Regions from separate parts of the Homo sapiens genome. Here region 2 is linked to region 1. Evidence: fine-mapped expression QTL. A gene starts in region 1. The other region holds a variant in brackets. All regions are shown on one strand. Distances are between the middles of the regions.

Region 1 (12,120 bases):
GGGTTCAAGTGATTCTCCTGCCTCAGCCTCCTGAGTAGCTGGGACTACAGGCATGCACCACAACGCCCAGCTAATTTTTGTATTGTTAGTAGAGATGGGGTTTCACCATGTTGGCCAGGCTGGTCTTGAATTTCTGACCTCAGGTGATCCGGCCGACTCCACTTCCCAAAGCACTGGGATTACAGGCATGAGCCACCATGCCCGGCTGCAAAATCATTTTGAACACATTGGTAAAAGAAGGAATTGCTGGGAAGGTGGCATTTGAGCAAAAACCTGATGGAACCCCACAAGCACAGACAACTAAAGCAAAAATGGATAAGTGGGATCACATCAAGTTAAAAAGCTTCTGCACACCAAAGGAAACAATCAACAAAGTGAAGAGACACTCCACAGAATGGGAGAGAATATTTGCAAACTATCCATCTGACAAGAGATCAATAACCAGAATATATAAGTTGCTCAAACAACTCTATAGGAAAAAATCTAATAGTCCGATTTAAAAATGAGCAAAAGATCTGAATAGACATCTCTCAAAATGAGACATACAAATGGCAAACAGGCATATGAAAAGGTGCTCAACATCATTGATCATCAGAGAAATGCAAATCAAAACTACAATTAGGCAGGGCGGGGTGGTTCTCACCTATAATCCCAACAATTTGGGAGGCTGAGGTGGGTGGATCACTTGAGGCCAGGAGTTCAAGACCAGCCTGGCCAACATGGCGAAACCTTGTCTCTACTAAAAATACAAAAATTAGCCAGGTATGGTGGTGCATGCCTTTAGTTTCAGCTACCTGGGAGGCTGAGGTGGGAGAATCAGGGAAAATCGCCCGAGGCTATAGTCGAGGCTGAAGTTAGCTGTAATCATGCCATTGCTCTCCAGCTTGGGTGAAAGAGAAAGACCCTTTCTTTAAAAACTCTTAAAAATAGAACTACCGTGTGATCCAGCAATCCTGCTGCTGGGTACTGCTGCTGGGTATATACCCAAAAGAAAGAAATCAGTACATTAAAGAGACATCTGCACTCTCATGTTTGTTGCACCATTGTTCACAATAGCCAAGATTTGGAAGTAACCTAAGTGTCTATCTATAGATGAATGGATAAAGAAAACATGGTACATATACACAATGAAGTACTATTCAGCTGTAAAAAAGAACGAGATCCTGTCATTCGCAGCAACATGGATAGAACTGGAATGTCATTATATTAAGTGAAATAAGCCAGGCACAGAAAGACAAACATCACATGTTCTCACTTATTTGTGGGAGCTAAAAATTAAAACAATTGAGATAGAAAGTAGAAGGAAGTTTACCAGGGGCTGGGAAGGGTAGTGGGGGACTGTGGGGATGTTTAATTGGTACAAAAACTAGTTTAAAAGAATAAATAGGACCTAGTATTTGCTAGCACAACAGGGTGACTATAGCCAATAATAATTATACATTTTCAAATAACTAAAAGAGTATAATTGGATTGTTTGTAACACAAAGGATAGATGCTTGAGGTGATGGATACCCCATTTACCATGATGTGATTATTACACATTGCATGTCTGCATCAAAGTATCTCACGTACCCTATAAATATATACACGTACTATGAACCCACAAAAATTTTAAAAAGGCAGGGTGCAGTGGCTCATGCCTGTAATCCCAGCACTCTCGGAGGCCGAAGTGGGAGGATCACTGGAGGTCACATGTTCGAGACCAGCCTGACCAACATGGCAAAACCCTATCTCTACTAAAATACAACAATTAGCTGGGTGTGGTGGCATGTACCTGTAATCCCAGCTACTCGGGAGGCCTAGGCAGGAGAATCACTTGAACCTGGGAGGCAGAGGTTGCAGTGAGCTGATATCACACCATTGTACTCCAGCCTGGGTGACAGAGCAAGACTCTGTCTCAAAAAAAAAAAAAAGAAAATTAAAAAAAAAAATCCTAATGGAGGTGAGAGAGCCAGTCCTGTAGTGGTAGCTGGGAAAAGAGCAGTCCAGGCGAAAGGAATAGCTAGTAGCAAAGCCCGGAGAAAGCCCTGAGGCACCGCCTCCTGGTGAGAGGCAAAGCAGAGCTGGATGTGGGGATCCAGGAGCCTGTTATAAGTACTCTGGCTTTTACTGAATGAGCCAGGAAGTCTTTGGCGAGCTTTAATCTCTGACTTATAGAATAATATCAGTCTTTCTTGGGTTAGTTGAGCCAATGCTCTTACTTGTATTCTTTCTCCATCGCTTATAATGGAAAAAGCCCTAGTTTATTATCCTTCTGTCTTGTATTAATTTTATCTGGGATTGAGCTCTGTGGCACAGAAACATATTCTCAAATAAACTGCTATCTTTTAAATAGTAATAATACTCCCTCAAACAGTAATAGGCTAATTCCTGTTTTGGGACCAGATCAGTGGTCTTTCAAATCTAATAAGTTTGAAAAACTATGTACTCACTTCCATATTTTTAAATCGATATTGGAAACTTTTCATCACAAGTTTAAATATTTGCCAAGGTTGTAATTTCTAACATGTTATAAATAATGACTGTTAAATAATACTTTTAAATCTATTTAGTAAAAACTAAATATAGCCGTTCAAAACCACTGTCATTCATTTAAAAATACATAAACAAGTTGTTCTTTAAAAGTGGGAAATTTTTGGCTTCCTAGTACTTACCATGGTCTGTGTTCTTACGCTGACTGTATAGAAACAGGAGGCAGAGTAAACCGACCCCACATATACCTCAGCCCAGGCCCTGTGCTGCGTCTGTATTGTGAATCAGGAGACATGGAGTTCAGAAAAAAAAACTATTGGAAGTTTTTATTTTCTCATTTTTAAAATTTAGTTCTCAGTCTTCTTTCTTCTTGAGTTCGTACTTCCATTCTACTTCTCTTAGAGAAGGTTGTCCCACTGAAAATACAGGCAGTCCTCACTTTGCACAATAATACAGGACCTTCAAAATAACTGTACAAGTTGAAAATGTATAATGTGATCTAAATAATCAATGGGAAAAATTATGATTGTCCTATGACCTTTACATTTTTTTGTCACAACATTATGAACTCTCTTACTATTCGTTAAAATGTATAGGGAAATAAAGAACATGGTAAGACTGATATTTACTTAGTATACTGCAATTTAAAACATTAGAAACATTGATAAAGTGTTATGTTTCTTTGTAAACACTTAACAATAGTAGTTCGCTTAGTTTCTTGCCTTCTTGTCATAAAACTTATGATTTGGCGTACTCATCTTTCTACGCCTTGATGGACTGTCATAGTTTTACGTTTGGATCAACTTCCAATGTGTTATCCTTTGCATTTTCGATGTGGTGAAATATCTCCAAGAGTTCCTTTAATGTGAAGTTTTTTGCCAGGATCACTTCCTTTGAGACATAAGGTGACTCACTTATGTCATGAGTTCACCTGCACTAAGTTCCCTGGCTGCATATCTGAATTCTCTCCAATGGTGGTAGTGTAAACATTCCCATGGTCAGCTATTTCCTCTATAACCTCATTGTGTTCATTTCACTTTTTTTTTGTTGATTTTTTTAGACGGAGTTTTGCTCTTGTCACCCAGGCCGAAGTGCAATGGCACAATCTTGGCTCACTGCAACCTCCGCCTCCCAGGTTCAAGTGATTCTCCTGCCTCAGTCTCTGAGTAGCTGGGATTACAGGCACCCACCACTACGCCTGGCTAGTTTTTGTATTTTTAGTAGACACAGGGTTTCACCATGTTGGCCAGGCTGGTCTCGAACTCCTGACCTCAGGTGATCCGCCTACCTTGGCCTCCCAAAGTGCTGGAATTACAGGCGTAAGCCACCATGCCCAGCCATTTCACATTTTATTTGCGGTATTGTCACTTTTTATTTCCATGCCATACTTTCATCCTTGTTGGTCAATACCCTTTCTCAATCACCCATTTTTGTAAAATGTCACATGGGTTTTTTACTAGCAGACAAGGAGACAATGCAACTGCAAGCCTTACTGTCTGTATGTGAACTGACAGATGCACAGAGATCAATCACTGACAGACTTTGAAAGAAGATACATGATTGGTCACTGATCAGGATGCGCATTTGTTAATGTAGTAATTCATGGACCTGAGGAGCTAGCAGCAAATTTGTATTTTATGCAGTTACTCAGAGTTAATTTACTTCAGTAACTGAAATTTGAAACCTTGTTCTCAGGGGACAGGTGTTATTTAACTAAACCATGGTAACTAAAATTCATACATATTGGAACCATTCAAAGAAAGCATTTTTGGCCAGGCCAAAAAAAAGAAAGACTTTTCTGTATGGTTTTATACTGAATATCTTTTATTAATCTCTTAACCTTCTCTGTGACAAAAATGTGTATAAATTACAATTTGTATGTCCTTGATGGTTTTATATCTTTGGTTATTTTACAAATCCTGGTCTAATTAATATTATAATTATTATTATAATTAATTAAACATAAATATGTTTAAATCAAAAGTAAAAAATTATTAAAAATTATTTCAATCTGATGAATAGGGCTACTTTCATTTAGAGTATGAAGTCAAGTAGTGCTTACTGCTGGAATGAGACAGTATTTAGGTTCAATAATGTTCCTGCTTAACATTTCTATAGACATAATCGCTGAGAAAACATGTTCACAGAGACAAATAGGTAAGAATGAGATAAATTTTATCATAGTGGCCGGGCGCGATGGCTCATGCCTGTAATCCCAGCACTTCGGGAGGCTGAGACAGGTGGATCACCTGAGGTCAGGAGTTCAAGACCAGCCTAGCCAACATGGCAAAACCCCATCTCTACTAAAAATACAAAAATGAACTGGGCGTGGTAGCATGCACCTATAGTCCAGCTAATCAGGAGGCTGAGGGAGGAGAATCTCTTGAACCTGGGAGGCAGCAGTTGCAGTGAGCCAAGATTACACCATTGCACTCCAGCCTGGGTGACAGAGTAAGACTCCGTCTCAAAAAAAAAAAAACAAACAAAAAACCTTTTTTATAGTAATGCCATTCATTTTGTCATTCCCTCCAAATTATTTGCCAAAAATCCTCTTTCACTTTTGCTGGAAACCAGGAATTGGAAACCTGTGACTTGCAAAAGCATTTTTACCTAGTTATTAGAATGTTCACTTTCTTATTTTACAGGAAACATACCAAAAAAGGTTTTACCAAGACACATCGGCTGCAGGGCAGCCACAGATACCTGCGTTGGTTGTGTACTATACAACTCCTGAGAGCAGTGTTTACACTGTACTCTACTTAAGTTGCATGAGCTGGAATTGTGCAGTGCACAATTTGCAAAGCTGTATGTGGTAGCCTTATACATTTTACCTACTATTGTTTTTTATTTTGAGACGGAGTCTCACTCTGTCGCCCAGGCTGGAGTGCTATGGCGCAATCTTGGCTCACTGTAACCTCCGCCTCCCAGGTTCAAGAGATTCTCCTGCCTCAGCCTCCTGAGTGGCTGGGATTATAGGCGTATACCACCACACCTGGCTAATTTTTGTATTTTTAGTAGAGATGGGGTTTCACCATGTTGGTCAGGATGGTCTTAAACTCCTGACCTCATGATCTGCCTGCCTCGGTCTCCCAAAGTGCTGGGATTACAGGCGTGAGCCAATGGGCCTGGCCTTTTTTTTTTTTTTTTAACTTGGCAGCAACTTGTTTAATCCAGTATGTAAATGAAGTATACAAAATGTTCTATCTATGCCCATCATCTACACACATTGTTAATGATATCACAGCATATCAAACATTTAATGGCATGGCTGTACTTAGTGGAAAGATGTACTAATAAGGTAAAAATTATAAATAAAATCATTATTTTTAGAACTCGGAGTCCTTTGAAAGCTGAAGTGTGATGTCAATAAGTCATCTAACTCCATGCCAAGCTTAGTATCTGCCAAATCATTTATGTCTCATTTCCATGGCAGCACTTTATTTCTTTAAGACTTGGAACCACAGATGGCACATCTGTTTTCTTGAACGGTATCATTAATTTATTTGATTTATGAATGCTAATTATATGTTTCTGAATGCATCAAATCTATCAGCATTTGCAATGGTCTCTTTGATAAGCACATGGTAAAGAGGAACTATGCCAGGCAATACCCTTCAGGACCTGCTCTTCTCTTAGCAAAGTGAAGCAGTATAATAGTCTAATATGTAATATACACTGATATACACTTTTAAGTAGTAATTCACAACCAGGGAACATCACGAAATGAAAGCAAGAGTTTTAGTTGGTTCATGCAGCCATCTGAAATAACTGCATAAATGAGAATATAGTGAATTCTATTATTCATGAATCATTTATTATTACATGTAGTTATGATTCCAGAAGCCCTTACTCCAAGTTAGATGGAGCCTATATTTTTTTATACATCAAACTTGGCAAACAGTAATTATAGCTGCAAAAACAGCCATCTCTACACTTCAGTGACAAAAATGGAGAGAAGTCTCCTTCAATCAGTCACAATTGTGTCCTTGAATGGCAACAGTGACAACAGCATCACTATCAGTTATGAAGGGCAAGCTATAATTACTATTAACTATGAAGTTCATAATTTCTGAAGAAATGTTAAGAAGATGCTAATTTCCAAATTAAGGTTGTGATGCAGAATTAAGTGTAAATATTCTTTCATTATAGTAGCTAACATTTATATATCAAGTCCTAAGTGCTTCATTATTAATTTGTCTTTCCAATAACCTTAGGTTAGGTTGAGAAAGTATCCATGTTGTCTGTGTTTTACAGATCTGAAGACGAAGGATCAGAGAAGTTTAGTAATTTGTGAGAGGCTATATGTTGGATAAGTGGCAGAGATGAGCCTTAAGCCCGAAACTAAATCTCATATGCTTTCCTTTTCTAACTATACTGTTTACCAGATGTTGGGATGTTAAACTTTCATCCTTCTTCCTTTTGGGTCCAACACATTCTCTTATTTGTCCATAAGAATCACCTGCTGCCCTTGATTAGAATGCAGATCCCTAGGTCTCCACCCCGCAGACGTCTGTGCGTGGGGTGTGGTAGTTGTGGGGGCTGCATAACCAGCATCTTACATAATTCAATTAAGATGATCTGACTTGTGGAATTAAACTAAAACCCACCCACAGGAGAACCAACAGATGCTATTTATTCAGAGTTTGCTGTAGAAGGGAGTCCCACTCACCATCACTTTGTCAGAGGCTCAAAGGTGGGGCAGACGAGTGGGAAAGCTTTATAGAAGTGAAGAAAAGCCCCCGGTATGCTCTGATTGGAAGTTGTTGGCATGGGAAAGCTGCAGGTGGGCTACTAGAAGCGGGGGTATTTTATGTGATGGGTTTGCGGAACATATTTGGCTTTCTCTGGTTGGTGCAGAGGTGGAACTAGGGGTAAAAATAGGGAAGTTGCACTTTGGAAGTCCCAGGCAGGAAGATCGCTTGAGTCCAGGAGTTTGAGACCAGCCTGGGCAACATAGTGAGACCCTGTCATGAAAAAATATTTAAAATTTTTCAAAAATTGCACATCTGTAGTCGTAGGTACTTGGGAGGTTGAGGCAGAGGATCTCTTGAGACCAGGAGATCGAGGCTGCAGTGAGCTAAGATCGTGCGACTACATTCCAGGCTGGGCAACATAGCAAGACCCTGTCTCAAAAAAGAAAAAAAATAGGGAAATTGCCAGTCGTTGACTACTTCCTGACTGTTCTGGTTCAGCTGCTACCAAGGTTGTGGTCTGGCTTCCTGGGCTTCTTATGTGGTTCAGAGTTCTGTTGTCACATACTATCTGGCCATTCATGTATATTGCGTTTCTGAGACCATACTCTGGGAAACACATGGTCCTCTGGTGGTGGTGAAGGTCCCTGTGAGCTAGGGACCATCTGTCAACACTCTTATCACTACTAGTGTCTATCCCTATCAGGCACTAGAAGCACTTAATAAAATCTTGCGAATGAATGAATGAATGATATACAAAAATATTTGATACTGGCTTTAGTTGGAACAAGAAAATGAACTTTGTGTACCACATAGACATCTGTGACTAGAGTGGCCGTCACCAGAAAGGCTGCTCCTTCCAGCTGCTATGCTCTAAATACAATAACCTGAATCTTAGCACGACTGGACTTCGCCTGGACTTCGCCTTGGCCCCGGCTGCCCAAAGTTTCTCTCAAAGCTTCAGCTTAACCCCTGATGTGCTCACCAGCACCAAGGCGCCCTCCTGAGTGCTTTGCTGGGGGTGGGATGGCGTTTGTGGGAAAGGCCGGCTACTTCTGGCATTTCAACGGCGCCTCCAATCCCTGACCTTTAGTTGTGCCCCATTCTCTCCACTCTTTCCCCCTTCTCTGTCCTCACGATTGAGTCTGGGCTGGCGAAGCCTACTGAGGGAGGGGAGTGTACACACATGCACACGCGCGCGCGCGCACACACACACACACACACACACACTCATATATGGTGTTATTAATAATTCAGGACTCAGAGTTTATCTAAGAGAAGACGCTCGACCGGGTGTGAGAGAGCGCGCGGGACAGAGAGCGAGCCAAGGAAGGGGAAGGCGGCGGCGCGCGCTGTCTCCTGGGGAAGCAGTCCCACCTGCTGTGGGGGGCGCCGCTGGGGAGGGGCCGAGCCGTGCTCACGCCTGCACGCCCCGCCCCGCTCGCCGCACGGCCCGGCGACGGGGGAGTTCCCGCGAGTGGCCTCGCGCCCAGACCGTGCGGGGGGCTGTTCGGGTGGAGGCGGGGGAGCCGCCGGGACACCAAAATAGGAGCTGCTTGTGGGGTGGAGCGGCACTAGCTGGCGGCTTCCGAGCGCCTCTTCCAAAGATGGTCAGAGGGGCCGGAGGCGTCCCCGCTCCCGCTCGCTACTAGCCCGCGGGCCAGCGCCGCGTCCCGAGCCCCGGCGGGAGGTAGGTGCGGTGTGGACCCGCAGCCCGAGGCCGGCCTGCTGGGAGCGAGCGGGGCCGGGCGCGGGGAGCGGGGCCGGGCGCGGGCAGCGGGGCCGGGCGCGGGCAGCGAGGCCGCGCGGGAGAGGAGCGCAGACAATGGCCGCGCGGGCGCCGGGCCGGGCCGAACGCGTTGCGCTGGGGCTGCCTGCGGCGTCCTTCCCACACCTGCGCGGAGCGCCGGGCAGAGGGACGCGGGCACCGGGCCCGCGGGCGGCACGCGGCGCCCTCGAGTCCAGCCCCGCTCCTGGCCCCGGGGCGGGGCGGTCTCCGGGCGGGAACGTGGGCCGGGGCCCAGGCGCGGGGCGCGCGGAAACCCCTGCGGCGGGCGCGGGGGAGGGGGCGAGGGCTGCAAGGGCTGCGCCGAGCTGCCTTCCTTTCTCTCCTTCCTTAAGCGAAAGGGCTCGGGATTTCCCTTTTCCGAGACCTCTTCTTGTCCATTTATATTTCCATCATCCCTTTCTTGGCATTTCGATGTGATTTGAAAGGGAGACGAGCTTGGGGAAAAGGTTGAATTGGGGCCGAGCCGAGACAGCTGAGGTCCGGCCTCGAGTGGGGTGACCCTCGGACACTTGCCTTGCCTAGTGTGGGATCTCATCTCCGAACGCCAGGCCAGGGTAGATTGCGGTGAATGGAATAGCAAATCAGTACTCTCAAAAGGACTACTGAAAAATCCAGGAGCCTCATTTCAAGCTCCGAGCTACCCTGAATTTAAATTGACCACCATATAAATGATCAAACAGTCCATCCACATTTTGCATTTATTATTTAGATGCTGAACTTAGTCCAGTTTTGGAGTATATCCGATGATAGTCAAGTTATTTAGCGTTGATTATTTGAGAGAATGTGCAACATTGAAAACACATTTGTTATTTCATATTTATTGCAGCCATGGCTCTAAAAGGACAAGAAGATTATATTTATCTTTTCAAGGATTCAACACATCCAGTGGATTTTCTGGATGCATTCAGAACATTTTACTTGGATGGATTATTTACTGATATTACTCTTCAGTGTCCTTCAGGCATAATTTTCCATTGTCACCGAGCCGTTTTAGCTGCTTGCAGCAATTATTTTAAGGCAATGTTCACAGCTGACATGAAAGAAAAATTTAAAAATAAAATAAAACTCTCTGGCATCCACCATGATATTCTGGAAGGCCTTGTAAATTATGCATACACTTCCCAAATTGAAATAACTAAAAGAAATGTTCAAAGCCTGCTTGAGGCAGCGGATCTGCTACAGTTCCTTTCAGTAAAGAAGGCTTGTGAGCGGTTTTTGGTAAGGCACTTGGATATTGATAATTGTATTGGAATGCACTCCTTTGCAGAATTTCATGTGTGTCCAGAACTAGAGAAGGAATCTCGAAGAATTCTATGTTCAAAGTTTAAGGAAGTGTGGCAACAAGAAGAATTTCTGGAAATCAGCCTTGAAAAGTTTCTCTTTATCTTGTCCAGAAAGAATCTCAGTGTTTGGAAAGAAGAAGCTATCATAGAGCCAGTTATTAAGTGGACTGCTCATGATGTAGAAAATCGAATTGAATGCCTCTATAATCTACTGAGCTATATCAACATTGATATAGATCCAGTGTACTTAAAAACAGCCTTAGGCCTTCAAAGAAGCTGCCTGCTCACCGAAAATAAGATCCGCTCCCTAATATACAATGCCTTGAATCCCATGCATAAAGAGATTTCCCAGAGGTCCACAGCCACAATGTATATAATTGGAGGCTATTACTGGCATCCTTTATCAGAGGTTCACATATGGGATCCTTTGACAAATGTTTGGATTCAGGGAGCAGAAATACCAGATTATACCAGGGAGAGCTATGGTGTTACATGTTTAGGACCCAACATTTATGTAACTGGGGGCTACAGGACGGATAACATAGAAGCTCTTGACACAGTGTGGATCTATAACAGTGAAAGTGATGAATGGACAGAAGGTTTGCCAATGCTCAATGCCAGGTATTACCACTGTGCAGTCACCTTGGGTGGCTGTGTCTATGCTTTAGGTGGTTACAGAAAAGGGGCTCCAGCAGAAGAGGCTGAGTTCTATGATCCTTTAAAAGAGAAATGGATTCCTATTGCAAACATGATTAAAGGTAAGTGGAGATTATGTTTATTTTGTATTTTTTAGATGTCTGGAGCTAGGCCAGCAGTCTCACTTCTCTTGAATTTATCACTTTGGGATGCTATCTAGGAACTATAGTTAATTATACAAATAATGCTACACAGAATGTTCCAGATAAAAACAGTATAGCATAGTTCCCAACTTGTCTGAGAGTTATGAGAATTTATATTCAAGTCAAGGGCTAGATGAAGAGACAAATCTGGACAGTTTTTCATTTTTTCATGTTCTTAAAATTGAACCCTTTAAAATTCTGCTATTCAACTTTTTCCTCTCAAAATACGCTGATCAGCTCTCAAGAGGTCCTTCATTAAAACCTTGGAAGGTTTGGTCCCTACAGGATGTAACAAAGTACATTCTTCCAGGAACTAGAGACAACGTCTGCTTTTGCAATTCAGTCCTCTCTGAGAGGGGCAGACACCATACTCTCCCTCATGTGGCCCACAGAACCCGGCACACCCCTGGGTCTCGGTATCTGTCTGATAAACACTATTTTCTGCTGTGTTTGGCGATTTGTTTGCCTTGCTCTCCTTCTCTCCCACTGGAAAAAAAGTTAAACGGGAATCTTATTTCATTGTATTTATTCATTGGTGCTGAGGAGTTGTACAAAAACAACTGGTAGGTCGTTACCAAATTTGTATCATTTTGTCCCAAATGTTTCTTCCCAGGCTTTTCTGTTTCTTTTTTAATGCTAGTGAGAGTGTGGGAATTTGACCTGGTCTGGAAATCTGACCTGGTATGATCCTTGGATGACAGGCAGGAAGCTGAGAGGCAGAACAGTCTTGGGATCAGGCACGCTGCCTCTGAAGCTAAACTGCCTGCATCCAGATCCCTGCTTTCCTCTTACTTGCTGATGAGCTCTGGCAAATTGTTTAATCACCCTGTGCCCCCGTTTTGTCATCTGTATAATGGGGATGACAATATTACCTAGTCTCGGATCATTGAGAGGATTAAATTAATCTATGCTTGTGAAGTGCCTAGAACAGTGTCTGACACAGAGTAAGCATGCTATAAATGTTACGCATGATTGTCCTGAATGTCGGTATTGAAGGACATGTCAGCTCTTATAGAGCAGAAATTGATTTCATGTGAAGTTGTGAC
Region 2 (16,240 bases), 46 kb after region 1:
TTTTTATTCTCTATCCACAAATGTAACATGTACATACATTCTCCTTGTGAAGAAGTATAGAATGAAAAGTGGGGAAAAAGATCTAAACCTCTTTATCCCATTCCTCTTAAAGGAAATGTTAAAAAGTGGGTCTACATACTTACAAGCCCTTTCTATGCAATACATGCATATCAAAGATATAGCAAATATACCTTTTTCATAAATATTGTACTATTCATGTTATGCAGATTATATTTTTCATCTACGGTGGCAGAGGATTTGAACATGTCAGTGCATATAAATTTATTTTATTTTTTAACTGCTCTATACTTTTCCAATGTGTAGATGAAACATAATTTCACCAGAATCTTATTGATGGACTCATAGATTGTTTAGTCATTTGCTTTTATAAATAGTGCTCAGTGAATGAATGTCTTTTATTTAACCTATACACAGGAACCATATCTGTGAGATAATTTTTTAGAGTGGATTCACTAGGCCAAAGGATAGTTTCCTTTTAAAGTTTTAGAGCTATTGAGAAATTAAAATCCAAAGAAGTTTTATTAATTTATACCCTCATAAGCAATATATGAATTTGCCTTAGCCTATCCCACAGTGTCAGCAAAGTGTTTGGTTTGTGCCACTGGTATCTTACTTTGGTTTAATTTTGAATGTATTGCTTAGCATCCTCATCTTTCTGAGTGAACTATCTTATCTTTTGTGTGCCTATTCCATTCAGAAGTTTTCCCTATGGATTGCTGAGATTTTCTTCTTGGTTTATAGGAACCATTTATATTTTTTAAAAATGACCACCTTTCTTGTGATCAGAGTTACAAGCTTCTCCCCATTCTGCTCACTGCCATGGCTTATTTTTATAGTTCAATTAACTAATAATTTTATGAGTTCCAAGTTTTTTGTCATAATACTTTTTTTTGTGATTATAAAAAAAGTTACTAGAAAATTTAAACCAAAGTTGTGACCAATAGAAATGATCATTACTGGCTGGGTGTGATGGCTCATGCCTGTAATCTCAGCATTTTGAGAGGCCAAGTCAGGAGGATTACTTGAGGCCAGGATTTTGACGCCAGGCTGGGCAATATAATGAGATCCCATCCTTAAAAAAAAAAAATTTAGTAGACTGGGCTCAGTGGCTCACACCTGTAATCTCAGCACTTTGGGAGACCAAGGCGGGCAGATCACCTGAGGTCAGGAGTTTGAGACCAGCCTGGCCAACAGAGGAAACCCCATCTCTACTAAAAATACAAAAATTAGCTGGGCGTGGTGGTGCATGCCTGTAATCCCAGCTACTCGGGAGGCTGAGGCAGGAGAATCGCTTGAACCCTGGAGGCGGAGGTTGCAGTGAGCTGAGATTGCACCACTGCACTCCAGCCTGGGTGACAGAGCAAGACTCCACCTCAAAAAAAAAAAAAAATTAAACATTAGCCAGGTGTGATGGTGCACACCTGTAGTCCTAGCTACTCAGGAGGCTGAGGTGGGAGGATTACGTGAGCTCAGGAGGTGTAGGCTGCAGTGAGCTATGATTGTGCCACTGCACTCCAGCGTGGGTGACAGAGCAAGACCTTCTCTCTAAAAAAAAGAAAGAAAGAAAGAAAGGAAATGAAAGAAAGCAGAAATTATCATTACTGTCTTGGCTGGATACAACTGTAGTCTTCAAGTGTATTTTGTAGCTTTCTATTCCCTATTTGAGTTTTTCATCTTGCGTAGCTGTAATATATTTAAAAGTAGTTCTAACTGGACATCTTTCCATAGTGACATCCACCTTCTGTGAAGCTCTGTGCTTTTATTCCATAAATTTTAAAGAAGTTATTGGCCATTACAATGGATGAAATGAAACTTTGAAATTTTTTTTCAATGAGGAAGCTCAAAGTTTGACAAGAAAACGACTGCAAAAATATAACAAAACATCTGTGGAAGTTGCACAGCATCCTGGCTCATAAAATCAGGATCGGAAACCATCAGTCTCCTTCCCGTTTCTGTTTCCTTTCTTGTCTGTAAAGACCAAATATTTAGGTCAGGCACAGTGGCTCATGGCTAGTCACCATTTTGGGAGGCCCAAATGCGTGGATTGCTTGAGGCCAGGATTTCAAGACCAGCCTGGACAACAGGGGAAAACCCTGTCTGTACAAACAATACAAAAAATTAGCCAGGCATGGTGGCGTGTACCTGTAGTTCCAGCTACTTGGGAGGCTGAGGTGGGAGGATCAACTGAGCCTAGGAGGTTGAGGCTACAGTGAGCCGAGATCACACCACTGCACTCCAGCCTGGGTGACAAAGCAATACCCTGTCTCAAAAACAACAACAACAACAAAACAACCCCAAACATTTAGAAGAATTTAAGATGAGGGAAAGGAGAGCCACTCGCCCAGTTCTCCAGTGGCCTAGTGTCCCTAACTTGTAGAGCAGCTTTACTTCCAGTCTTGGGGCTACTTTGCAGTCAGTTCTTTGATTAGAGAAGCACCTTGCACTTTACCAGGCTTTCCTTATGAGCAGATAGTTACAGGTTAGTCTATAAGACATTATGATCATGTCACTCCTCTGTTCACATCCCTGCGATGACTCCACATTTCACTCAGAGCTAAAGTCAAAGTCCTTACAATTATATGCATGGGTGCTACAATGACTCACACAAAGATGGACAGCCATAGGCCTGGGTGAAAGCTCAGAGAGTCTGGTTTCAAACAGGAAGATGGGAGCAATGGATACTGTGACAATTGACAGTCTCTGCCAGACATTAAAATGCTATGAAGCCACTATAATTAAAATTCTGGGCCGGGCACGGTGGCTCACACCTGTAATCCCAGCACTTCGGGAGGCCAAGGCAAGCAGATCACTTGAGGTCAGGAGTTCGAGACCAGCCTGTCCTACATGACAAAACCCCATCTCCACTAAAAATACAAAAATTAGCCAGGCGTGGTGGTGCACGCCTGTAGTCCCAGCTACTTGGGAGGCTGAGGCAGGAGAATCACTTGAATCCATGAGGCGGGGGTTGCAGTGAGCCAAGATCGCACTACTCCACTTACAGCCTGGGCAACAGAGTGAGACTCTGTCTCAAAAATAAAATAAAATTCTGCTGTGTTATATTTCAAAATAATGTAAGAAAATTCAAGAAAAACCTCTGGGGTAGTGAGACATGAATAGACCAAGGATAATTGAAAAACATTTATCTAATGCTAACTTTTCTTATATGCCTGGGTGCATATTCATGGAAGGAGTGTAAATTGACACATTTCTGGTGAACAACTGAGAAAAATATATTACAATTACCAATTGAAGACCGTTTTGAACATGAGAGTATTTTGTTAGGGCGGGAATGTTTCTTGATGTGTACTTCCAGGCTGAAGTAGCTCTCCTGGTTTAATGCTGCTGGCCTCTCTTCTCCTCCTCACTTGCTTCTCCCTAAGAAAGGAGGGGTGACTCCTCTAATTGTTAAATTTGTAAAGAATAAACTGGGAAGGCCGCATTCAGCCCATCATCTTCCTAAAACCTGCATGGGGAGACCTATGTTTGAAGAACATTGCCTATGATTAAATGGAAAGAGATCCAGAATTGGGAAGCTCTCTTATCTGCAAATGTAAGCAACATGCTTCAACATCAGCTGTCACCAGTAATGAAGTGACATTTTAATCACCTGTCTGCCTCTTTTGTCTTATTTCCTAATTGGCTTAGAATTTGGGTGAGGATGAGGAGTGTCATTTATTGCTATAAGATCCAAACACACATCTACGGGTTTATCCTACAGACATACTTACATATGTATGAAGTTACATGTGTACAAGGTTATTCATTGTAGCACTGTTTATAATACCAAAAGACTGAGAGCAATCTGAATGTCCATAGAGAGGATTATTTAAATAAGACACTGTTGCACAATGGACTACTATGCAGCCAAAAATATTAGTAAGCTCCAAGATATATTAAAAAAACAGAATCACAAAACAAAAGGTACAGAATTGTGAGTATAGTATGCTATAAATTGTGCAAGAAAAAGAAAAATATATAAATATCTGCTAATACCTTCATAGCATATTTCAGAAATAATATATAAGAAATTGGTCAGTTTATTTATTTTATTTTGCCTCCAGGGAAGAAAACTTGGTACGTAGGAGCATTTTCTATTTGATACTCCCTAAAGTCACAGAAATCATGGGTGAGTGCAAATTCAGAGCAGAAATCCTGTGTCTGAAAGTACTATTAAGTACCTGTATCTTTCAAATCTTGTTAGTAGATGGTTACAAATTAATTACTCAATCTTTCTGTCAAATCAAAATGCATTTGTACTTATTTAGCTAAGGTGTAAAGTGAAGTGATTATTATAATTTTACTTTTTTTAAAACTTAATTATGTTTCATTAAATTAGCATATAATTGAGTATCTAAATGAAACTTTCAGATAAATAGAATAAAAACAGAGGTACAAGGAGAGTTGCAGTACATGGCAAGTTTCATCGTGAAAAGTTTTTTATTTGCCTTATTTTCATTTACTCAAAAAAATACTTATTGAGAGCCTCCTCTGTGCCTTGCTTTAAAAACTCTGGGAAAATGGGAGCAAGACACTCTCTTTTCTTAGTATGGCCTACTCTAGTAGGGGACACAGATAACAAGTAAACAAGCAGGCCAGGCGCAGTAGCTCACACCTGTGATCCCAGCACTTTGGAAGGCCAAGGCAGGCAGATCACCTGAGGCCAGGAGTTCGAGACCAGCCTGGCCAACATGGTGAAACCCCATGTCTAGTAAAAATACAAAAAAATTATCCAAACATGGTGGCACACACCTGTAGTCCCAGCTACTTGGGAGGCTGAGGCATGAGATCGCCTAAACCCAGGAGGTGGAGGTTGCAGTGAGCCAATATTGTGCCACTACAACTCCAGCCTGGGTGACAGAGGAGACCCTATCTTAAAAAGAAAAAAAAGTAAGCAGTAAGCTAATTTTTTAAGTGATAGTACTAAAAGACAATAACACAGAGCTATGACAATACAGAGTGGCTAAAATGGGAGAGGAGGAAGGATTATTTTTTCCCAGTTGATTTTCGGGGACAGATACAATTTATTAAAGAAGCATGTATGATATGCCCCCCGTGCCTACTCCTGTTGTGGGCACTGGGCATAAAGCAACATAGAAGGTTAAATCTTTGCTCTCAAGAAGCTTAAGACATTCCATTGATACAGACTGACAATAAACAAACAAGCAAATTGATATTTAATATGCAGAGTCAGATTTACTGTGATACCCCAGGGAGGGCTGGTAATTGCTGAGGGCCATAGAATGTTCTAGGTGGCAAGTGGAAGCCAGGTTGCAACAACTACACATTTTTACATAAGCATTTCTAGTAAATTGCCTAAATAAATCCTAGAAGGAAGAACTGAAGCTCCAAGACTCCAGCAATTTATGATTTATTTTCACATTAATATTCACTTTCATACTTAATTTTTATTTATTTTTATTTTTTTATTTTGTTTTTGAGACGGAGGCTTGCTCTCGCCCAGGCTGGAGTACAGTGGCGTGATCTCGGCTCCACTGCAAGCTCCGCCTCCCAGGTTCACGCCATTCTCCTGCCTCAGCCTCCCAAGTAGCTGGGACTACAGGCGCCTGCTACCATGCCTGGCTAATTCACCGTGTTAGCCAGGATGGTCTCGATCTCATGACCTCGTGATCTGCCCGTCTCGGCCTCCCAAAGTGCTGGGATTACAGGCGTGAGCCACCGCGCCCAGCTCATACTTAATTTTTAATTGCAATTTTTATATTTTGTTTCTTTAAAAAATGCCCCCCCATTATAAAAACTTCAGGCCCCACAAAATTTGTATGTTCCCATAATAAGATATCAGGTGGTAACAAGTTTGTTTTTTGTTTTTTGTTTTTTGTTTTTTTTGAGATGGAGTCTCGCTTTGTCCCCAGGCTGGAGTGCAGCGGTGCTATCTCAGCTCACTGCAACCTCCACCTCCCGGGTTCAAGTGATTCTCCTAACTCAGCCTCCCAAATAGCTGGGACTACAGGCGCTCACCACCATGCACAGCTAATTTTTGTGTTTTTAGTAGAGAGGGGGTTTCACCATGTTGGCCAGGATGGCCTCGATCTCTTGACCTCGTGATTCCGCCCACCTCAGCCTCCCAAATTGTTGGGATTACAGGCGTGAGCCACCATGTCTGGCTGGTAACAAGTTTTATGAAAAAAAATCAGAATGAAGGTGATGGAGTAAAATCGTTGTGGGGGAGGTACTATTAATATAAGGTGGTCAGCTACGACCTCTCTAATAGATGATGTTTGTGCTGAGCCCTGAAGAAGCAAGCTATAACCTTGGAAACAGTAGGTACAAAGGCCCTGAGGCATGTGTACTGTGAAGCCATCTATAGACTTATTATCTAAGAGGATGTTCCCTAGGCTAAATTAATTCTTTTAGAATATTTTATATCTCCAAAATCAAGGATCAGTTATATTAATAAATACATACACTTATTAAGCTACCCATTTATAAGAAATATAAAAGGTGCATTTTCATGAAAATAGGTTCATTTTCTTCAGATGAGGCTGGAATTTAGGATTGTACACAGTCTACAGGCTGACTCCTGCATTCACCCTTGTCTTCTACAGTGATACTCCTGAAATCCTAAAATGATTAAGTTCTGTTTCTATCAGTTGGCCCTCCTAACACTCTGCCTCTAAGAACCAGAACAAACCACTTTGCATTTTCTGCGAGTCATGCACTGTTTAGACACTAAGGAGGCCTGAGCAGGAAGAATCTGCCGGTTGATAACTCTTAGCTCTGTTTTTAGAATAAACACACCCATTTAATGAAAACAGTGTGTGCACTGAGTGTTATTTTAAGGGAAACAGAACAGAAAGGAGAGATGGGAGAAAACCAAAAGAGATCAAAAGGCTATTAACCAACCTGGAATTAATAATATACTTTTTAAAAAAGTTTCAACCAGAGTATCCTGTTTCTTTGCTGTCTACCTCCTATTTAAAAAATGGTCATGACAGAGAAGCATGATGAATTTAACTAGACTACAAGTGTACTGAGGCAGAAGGCAGAGCCTAAGTTTTATTTACTTTTGGATCTTTAGGGCGAAGCACATGGTAAGCACACCATACATATTTGTGCAATTAGGAATTCATGTTAAACTGTGTGATAGCAACCATAATTATTCTACACCATGTGGTGATAACATGGGTTTCATTTTATATATGGATTTCTCATTGTTTTTCCAAGGCCTGCCCACAAAAAAAACCACAAGAAGATGAGGTGAAAAATTCCTAGGCCCTGCCGTGCAGCCACAGAAAATAGGAACCTGCCTGACTGTGGACATCAAATGAATTTCAAGGCCTGGAACCTGGATAGCATGGTTCACTGAGTCTAAGAATGAATCACCTTATATGGTAGTATAAGTTGTTTCTGAGCTGATATAACTGGGAATATAGAAGGCAGGGAGCCTGTCATTCTCTGCCTCTTTGACCTAGTAGATAGTTTGCTGTGCAGAGCTGGCAAGAATGCAAACTTTATGTGTATTCTGGGACATACAAGGGAGGCAATGGGAAGCAACATTTATCCTTCTGCATCTCTATCTTGTTTATATTCTTTGCTCTGCTTCTTAGTTCATCCAAAACTAAACCAAAGTAAAATCAACTTGAATGAAATCCAAGTCTTTATTCTCTCCATTCCCCAAACCTAGGCCAGATTCTATGGTCTGATTTTCAGCTTACATTCTATTGTCCAGCTCTGTTTTTACAGTAAACACACACATTTAATAAAAGGTGACAATTTGTGCACAGCGAGTATTATTTTAAGGGAAGCTATGGGAATATACTATTGGCCTCAAAGAGCTGACTTTCTACTGAGGCAGATAAAAAGTGTAAAAACCACTACTATCTCTAAAGTCAAGACAAAGTTAGAGGGTCTAAGACCTATGGTAAACTAGAGGATGTTCAATCCAATAGATGTAATAGTGTAGAAATAGGCCTTTTCAAATCATATATATATATATATTTTATTTGTTTGTTTATTTGTTTGTTTTTGAGATGCAGTCTCGCTCTGTCACCCAGGCTAGAGTACAGTACACGATCTCAGCTCACTGTAACCTTCAGCTGCCGGGTTCAAGCAATTCTCCTGTCTCATCCTCCTGAGTAGCTGGGATTACAGGCGCATGCCACCATGCCCAAGTAATTTTTGTAGTTTTAGCAGAGACAGAGTTTCACCATATTGATCAGGCTGGTCTCGAACTCCTGAACTCAGGTGATCCACCCACTTCGGCCTCCCAAAGTGCTGGGATTACAGGCACTTATATTTTTTAATAGGATTTTAAAACACAACAAAAGATTCCCCAGTTTAACTCCAGACCTTCTCTGAGCCTGCGGCAGAGCAGCTAAACACTGGAACAGTGCCTTAAATTTCTGGTATGGAATTCTTTTTTTTTTTTTTTTTTTTTGAGACGGAGTCTCACTCTGTCGCCAGGTATAGTGCAGTGGCGCGATCTTGGCTCACTGCAACCTCTGGCTCCCTGGTTCAAGCGATTCTCCTGACTCAGCTTCCCAAGTAGCTGGGATTACAGGCACACACAACCAGGCCCAGCTAATTTTTGTATTGTTAGTAGAGACGGGGTTTCGCTGTGTTGGCCAGGATGGTCTCGATCTCCTGACCTCGTGATCC[G/A]CCAGCCTCGGCCTCCCAAAGTGCTGAGATTACAGCCATGAGCCACAGTGCCAGGCCTCACATCATCACTTTCAAACTATCCTCCTTCCTCAAAAGCCCCACCTCTTTGTGTCTACATTCTAATGATCACCCAGTCACACCCCTCATTCACTGAAGACTTGACTCCTAGCTCACTGTCTTCCTCTTCATCCTGACTGGCGTCCTCATTTTTATCCAGATAGCCTCCCATCTGACACCTGGGGTCCTCAACCCACCAACCTCACTGCTTTTTTTTTTTTTTTTTTTTTTTTTTTTTTTTTTTTTTTTAACTCTTATGTCTATTCTGTGTTCATTCTCTCCCTTATCCACCTTTGATGTCCTGGTCGTCATTATGAAAAGCAATTGTACTTCTTTTATATTCACTTGCCCATCTGAGTATAACTTCTCTGGGCCTGCACCAGAGCAGCCAAACACTGGCACAGTGCTTTAAATTTCTGACCACAAAGCTGAAACACTCTATATCTGCTCCATAATCCTAAAAGGTTTTCCTAGTAAGATTAATATTTTGCTCTCTGAGTCAACTATTTTATATCTTTTTTTTCCTAAAAATTTCAACCTTCCTCTTTTTTTCCTTTCCTTTTTTTCCCTTTCTTTTTCTAAGATAAATACTGTAGAACATAAACCCTTCCTCATTGGCCCCACTCTCACATACTTTACTGAAAAAACATAAGCAACTAAACAGGAACTCTATTCTTCTAACCACCAAATCTTTCTACACTTGTGTCAATATTTCCTGTTCTCCCACTTGTTGTAATTCAAATGCCATCGCCCTATCGAAGCAGTCATGCTCTGGATTCTATCTTCTCTTATTTTCTCAAGGACATCACTCTTGCAATTGTCCCCGCTCTCATAGATCACCAGTTTCTCCCTTTATTATGTGGAATTTGCAATTCTTAAACTACCATCTTTTTTTTTTTTTTTTTGAGATGGAGTCTTGCTCTGTCACCCATGTTGGAATACAGTGGTGCAATCTTGGCTCACTGAAACCTCCGCCTCCAGGATTCAAGAGATTCTCCTGCGTCAGCCTCCTGAGTAGTTGAGACTACAGCACATGCCACCACATCTGGCTAAGTTTTTGTATTTTTGTATTTTTAGTAGAGTAGAGGGTTTCCCCATATTTGTTAGGCTGGTCTTGAACTCCTGACCTCAGGTGATCCACCCGCCTTGGCCTTCCAAAGTGCTGGGATTACAGGTGCACATCACCATGCCTGGCCTTAAACTATCATCCTTTAAAAAACCCTATTGGTGAAAAGATCCTCCGTTCCAGCTGGGCGCGGTGGCTCACACCTGCAATCCCAGTACTTTGGGAGGCCGAAGCAGGCAGATCACTTGAGGTCAGGAGTTCAAGACCAGCCTAGCCTGAAATAAAATACAAAAATTAGCCAGGTGTGGTGGCAGGCACCTGTAATGCCAGCTACTCGGGAGGCTGAGGCAGTAGAATTGCTTGAACCTGTGAGGCAGAGGCTGCAGTGAGCTGAGATCGTGCCACTGCACTCCAGCCTGGGCGACAGAGTGAGACTTCGTATCAAAAAAAAAAAAAAAAAAAAAAAAGATCCTCAGTTCCCTTTGGGAGGCCATCAACAAGGAGGGAGAAGGGAAGATACTTGAGCTCAGGAGTTCAAGACCAGCCTGGCCAACACAGCAAGATCCCATCTTTATTTTTAAAAATAAATAAACCTCAGTTGTCCTTAGATACCCTTCCAGGAACATCTCATTTCTTTGCTTCCCTTTATAGAAAAACTTATTGAAAGAATTGTTAACCCCACACTGTTCCACCTACTCCGGGCTTCCACCCTCATCACATCACTGAAACTACTGTTATCAGGTCATCTGTGACTTACATGTTGCCAAATTCAGTAGATACTTCTTTTTCCTCATTTTGCCTGAGTCTTGTGCAAACTGATCTGATCCACTTTGACCCTTCTCAATTATTAGCTTCTTTTTGTAGGTATCAGTAGCCTCCAGTACATGTAGGTAAATGAGGGCTATGGGTCTCTTTTGATTCTGAGCTGGGTACTTTATGAAGAACATTTTAGCAAACTACTAATTAGCCTCCCTTATAAACATAAAATCTTGAATTTTTCATTCTTCCAATTTATGTCTTCCCCCAGAAACACTGATTCCAATGATTCATTCTGAGGTTCTGGCTACTGCTACCCCAAATTCCCGAATTAGCGCCCTATTTCCACTGTGTCACCATACTTCACCATATACTTCTCCACTGCAAGTGGAGATGTACTACTAAAACCTTTGATTTTTCTACCTTGTTGACTGTTCTAAAAATGATTGGTTTTCAAGAAGAGTTATCACTTAGAATCTGTCATCTATAAATGATTATTGATTTTGATGATTTCTGAAGAATGAATTAATTGTTGTGATAGTGTATGATTGTCTGCTGCCCTACTCCACTGGCTGAGAGACCCATCAGTATCTAAGAGAACTTATCAGTTCAGTAGGGTCAGGGCTCTATTACCTTCTTAGATGGTGCTATTTAGTGCCATGCTTAGCACTGTTGGACTTGCAGCCAAACTAATTGGTTACTCTTGAACAATATTAAGAAACCAACTCATTATTCTAAAAATTGGCGAAGGGAGAAAATCAAGCACTTATCTTCTTTTACTTGTATGTACATCAAGGAAACCAAATTGTGAATATGGTACTTTTTTTTTTTTTTATGAGAGAGGGTCTTGCTTTCTCACCAAGGCTGGAGTGCAATGTGCAATGGCCTGTTCACACACACACTGCCTGGGCTCAATTGATCCTCCCACTTCAGCCTCCCGGGTAGCTGGAACTACAGATGCTTGCCACCATGCTCAGCATTTTTTTTTTTTTTTGTATTTTTTTGTAGAGATGGGGGTTTCACCATGTTGCCCAGGCTGGTCTCGAACTCCTGTAGTCAAGTGATCCACCCGTCTTGGCCTCCCAAAGTGCTGGGATTATAGGTGTGAGCCACCGCACCCAGTCAATTTTTTTTTTTTTTTTTTTTTTTTTTTTTGAGACAGAGTCTCACTGTCACCCAGGCTGGAGTGCAGTGGTGCAATCTTGGCTCACCACAACCTCTGCCTCCCGGGTCAAGCGATTCTCCTACCTCAGCCTCCTGAGTAGCTGAGATTACAGGTGCACACCAACACCACCACGCCAGGCTGATTTTTGTCTTTTTACTAGAGACAGGGTTTCACCATGTTGGTCAGGCTGGTCTCGAACTCCTGACCTCATGATCTGCCCACCTCTGCCTCCAAAAGTGCTGGGATTATAGGCGTGAGCCACCGCGCCCCACCCCAATTTTTTTTTTTTTAACCGAAGAACTCCAGCTAGTGAATGCAGAAGAAATGACAGACTATTACTATTTTGACACTTGAATGAAATAATGGATCTAGGCAATGATTATTGATAGCTGCTGAAATCATTAGGTGAGAGGCTGATGAGGAACTTTATAATGATGGATCAGGCTGACAACACTTGAACCCACCGATTAATTTTAATATTCCAAAAAGAGAGGCAAACAGACATTATGTACTTACTGGTGTGATGCAATAAGAACACAGCATCGCCTATGAAGCACTCTTCCAAAAATATCTAGCCTAAATCTTATCAAGCCTCTAGACCTAATTTTCAGTTTATGTGAAATACACAAGATGGAGAAATGTGTTAAATAACACCTCAGGATACAATTAATCAAATCTGGAAAGTAACAAATTCTATAGGGAAAATGACTTGATTTCATCAACAAATAAATGGCAAGAAAAGCAGAAGAAACTATAGGTTGAAAGAAATTTAAGAGCCATTGTATATCACAATGCAACATGTGAATAGCATTTGGATCCTGATTTGCGTAATGCAACTTAAAAAATATTTATAAGACAATAAAAAATTTAAATACTGACTGGATATTTGATGACTGAGTAATTTTGTTAATTTGTTGGGTATGATAATGGTAAATATGGTTATATATTTTTAAAAAGAGTCCTTATTCTTAAAGATACGTAGATAAGACTTTGTAGATTAAATCAATATGTCTGTCATTTGCTCTAAAATAATCTTATGAGGGCTTTGGGAAGTGGTTTGGCATGTAGATAAAATAAGACTGCACATATGCTGATGCATGTGGAAGGTGGATGATGGCTATTCAGAGGGTTATTATACTATTTATATTACACTTTTTACTTTTGAAGTATGCTTGAAAATTTCTATAATAAAAAGAAAACAAGCAAGAAAAAAAAAATCCAAACTCGAAACCAAAAAGCTTGCAACCCTCTGAGCTCTCCCCTTAAGAATTCTTTCCAGGCCAGGCACAGTGGCTCACGCCTGTAATCCCAACACTTTGGGAGGCTGAGGCGAGTGGATCACCTGAGGCCAGGAGTTCGAGACCAGCCTGACCAACATGGAGAAACCCCATCTCTACTAAAAACACAAAAAAATTCACCGGGCGTGGTGGCACGTGTCTGTAATCCCAGCTACTCGGGAGGCTGAGGCAGGAGAATTGCTTGAACCGGGGAGACGGAGGTTGTGGTGAGCCAAGATTGCGCCATTGCACTCTAGCCTGGGCAACAAGAGCGAAACTCCGTTTCCAAAAAAAAAAGAAAAAAGAATTCTTTCCAAAGTCTATGAATGGTTTATTTTTGGACCCCTGATTCTCTCAAAATTCCCATGGCTTTTTCAAGTTAGCGTATTGCTTCATTTCTGTTTTTGAGTGATGAGGGTAGAATTATTTCCTCTGGGATTTTCCTACTAATTGCAGTCAGTAATGCTTACCAATGTATGGATTAAGGCTTTCCTCCCAGTAGGAGGTGCTACCTCAAAGTATGGTGGCAGCTTAGCCTTTAGAGTAAGTGCCAAAGGCCTTCCAGTGCTGCTCCAGTCTCCACACTGCTTTCCTGGGACCTCTGCATCACAGTGACATTTTTAGAATAGATTTGCTTCTGGAATAATTTTCCACCAATTTGCTGCCAAAATTGTGTGGGCCAGATTTCCTCCAGACTACAATTTACCCATCTCAGCTGGTTCTGCTTTTTTCCCCTTCTTTCCTTAATGAGGTTTGTAGACTCTTTTAAATATTCCTGGTTTGACATGGTGGCTCACACCTGTAATCCCAGCACTTTGGGAGGCTGAGGCAGGAGGATTGGTTGAGGCCAGGTGTTCGAGACTAGCTTGGGCAACATGGCAAGACCCTGTCTCTACAAAAAAATACAAAAATTAGCCAGGTGAGGTGGTCTGAACCTGTGGTCCCAGCTACTCAGGAAGCTGAGGGTGGGATGGTCACTTGAGCTCAGGAAGTTAAGGCTACAGCAAGCTATGATTGTGCCACTGCACTCCAGCCTGGATGACAGAATGAGACCCTGTCATATGTGTGTTTATGTTTGTGTGTGTTGGACTTGCATATATATATCAAACATGCACGCCAGTCTTCTACCCTAGGGAGAGTGCTTCATGTTCTTATTTCATTGCCATTGCTGTTACTGTTGAAGTTTGCCCAGCCCTGTTTCTTTAGTGTGTATTCTGAACGAGGTCACATCAGAATTTGTGGGTCATGGTGTTAAATGCAATTTGGGGAAAGAGGGACTCTTTGGGAAAAATAATACCAAATTATGGATACAAAATTAGGCAGGAGGCCAGGCGTGGTGGCTCACGCCTGTAATCCCAGTACTTTCAGAGGCTGAGGTGGGCTGATCACCTGAGGTCAGGAATTCAAGACCAGCCTGTCCAACATGGTGAAACCCCGTCTCTACTAAAAATACAAAAATTAGCTGGGCATGGTGTGGCATGCCTGTAGTCCCAGTATTGAGGAGGCTGAGGCAAGAGAATCGCCTGAACCCGGGAGACAGAGGTTGCAGTGAGATCGCGCCATTGCACTCCAGCCTGGGTAACAGAACGAGACTGTCTCAAAAAAAAAAAAAAAAAATAGGAAAATGAATATATATTTAGAATAAATAGGTAAATCACAACAAAGGCAAATAGCACAAGCATCACAAAATCCAGGACAAAAAACTACTTGAACGTAATTAACTGCCAGAAACCTTCCCATATTTTTCCCTACATTCTTTAGCCACATAGACTTTGGTTACTCTTCAATTTTGTAACATTTTTTACAGAGAGAGTATTTTCAATGGAGAGGGTGTAAGGATAATTTACTTTTTTCTGGAATAATTAGAATTCCTCTAGAAAGTTTTTTTTAAATTATTGGTTGTTTAGAAAAGTGTCAGCTTAATAAGTTGTTATTGGTGATGTCTTACAAATATGTAAGAGTTCCCTGGTGGTCTAGTGGCTAGAAAAAATTTAAAAAAGAAAAAATATATTTAAGAGTATTACAAATTTGAGGACACTTTTGTAAGTCTTTTTCACATATGAGTGGTAAGATTTCAGGATGTGTAAGTGTACTTCAGGGCACTCATTAAACAGTTTGTCATCAATGTCATTAAAATGGTGTATCATGGGCCAGGCGCGGTGGCTCACGCCTATAATCCCAGCACTTTGGGAGGCCAAGGTGGGCAGATCACGAGGTCAGGAGATCGAGACCATCCTGGCTAATATGGTGAAACCCCGTGTCTACTAAAAATACAAAAATTAGCCGGCCGTGGTTGTGGGCACCTGTAGTACCAGCTACTCGGGAGGCTGAGGCAGGAGAATGGCGTGAACCCGGGAGGTGGAGCTTGCAGTGAGCCGAGATTGCACCACTGCACTCCAGCCTGAGTGACAGAGCGAGACTCCGTCTCAAAAAAAAAAAAAAAAAAAAAAGGTGTATTATGATTTTATGATTTTAGGTTGTATTTGTTGATGTCATTGTTTTCTTTTTTTTTTTTTTTTTTTGAAATGGAGCCTTGCTCTGTCACCCAGGCTGGAGTGCAATGGTGTGACCTCAGGTCACTGCAACCTCCACCTCCCTGGTTCAAGTGATTCTTCTGCCTCAGCCTCCCGAGTAGCTCAGACTACAGGTGGGCACCACCTCTCCCAGCTAATTTTTGTATTTTTTTTTAGTAGAGACGGGGTTTCGCCATATTGGCCAGGCTGGTCTTGAACTCATGATCTGCCTGCCTCGGCCTCCCAAAGTGCTGGGATTACAGGTGTGAGCCACCACACCCGGCCAATCTCATTATTTTCTTTTTTTTTTTTTTTTTTTTTTTAAATTTATTTTTTTATTGATAATTCTTGGGTGTTTCTCACAGAGGGGGATTTGGCAGGGTCATGGGACAATAGTGGAGGGAAGGTCAGCAGATAAACAAGTGAACAAAGGTCTCTGGTTTTCCTAGGCAGAGGACCCTGCGGCCTTCCGCAGTGTTTGTGTCCCTGATTACTTGAGATTAGGGATTGGTGATGACTCTTAACGAGCATGCTGCCTTCAAGCATCTGTTTAACAAAGCACATCTTGCACCGCCCTTAATCCATTTAACCCTGAGTGGACACAGCACATGTTTCAGAGAGCACAGGGTTGGGGGTAAGGTCACAGATCAACAGGATCCCAAGGCAGAGGAATTTTTCTTAGTGCAGAACAAAATGAAAAGTCTCCCATGTCTACTTCTTTCTACACAGACACGGCAACCATCCGATTTCTCAATCTTTTCCCCACCTT

Evidence for each region.
Region 2: its variant is fine-mapped to the expression of KLHL23 in blood mononuclear cells (TOPMed, PIP above 0.99).

The regions. Positions count from the first base shown.
Region 1 is chr2:169,725,235-169,737,354 of GRCh38, forward strand. KLHL23 (kelch like family member 23) reads left to right here and starts at 8,598. Exons shown (of 4, transcript NM_144711.6): 1 at 8,598-8,853; 2 at 9,779-10,993. The coding sequence starts at 9,781. All of the region lies in intron 3 of PHOSPHO2-KLHL23 (PHOSPHO2-KLHL23 readthrough), which reads left to right. It overlaps LOC124900531 (small nucleolar RNA SNORA51), which reads left to right and starts at 2,638; the gene lies at 2,638-2,769. RefSeq lists silencers at 8,469-8,908, 8,929-8,998, 9,109-9,288.
Region 2 is chr2:169,769,238-169,785,477 of GRCh38, forward strand. No RefSeq gene overlaps it. Among named protein-coding and RNA genes, the nearest start is that of SSB, 22 kb to the right of the region's middle. The variant G/A (reference allele first, on the strand shown) is at 8,638.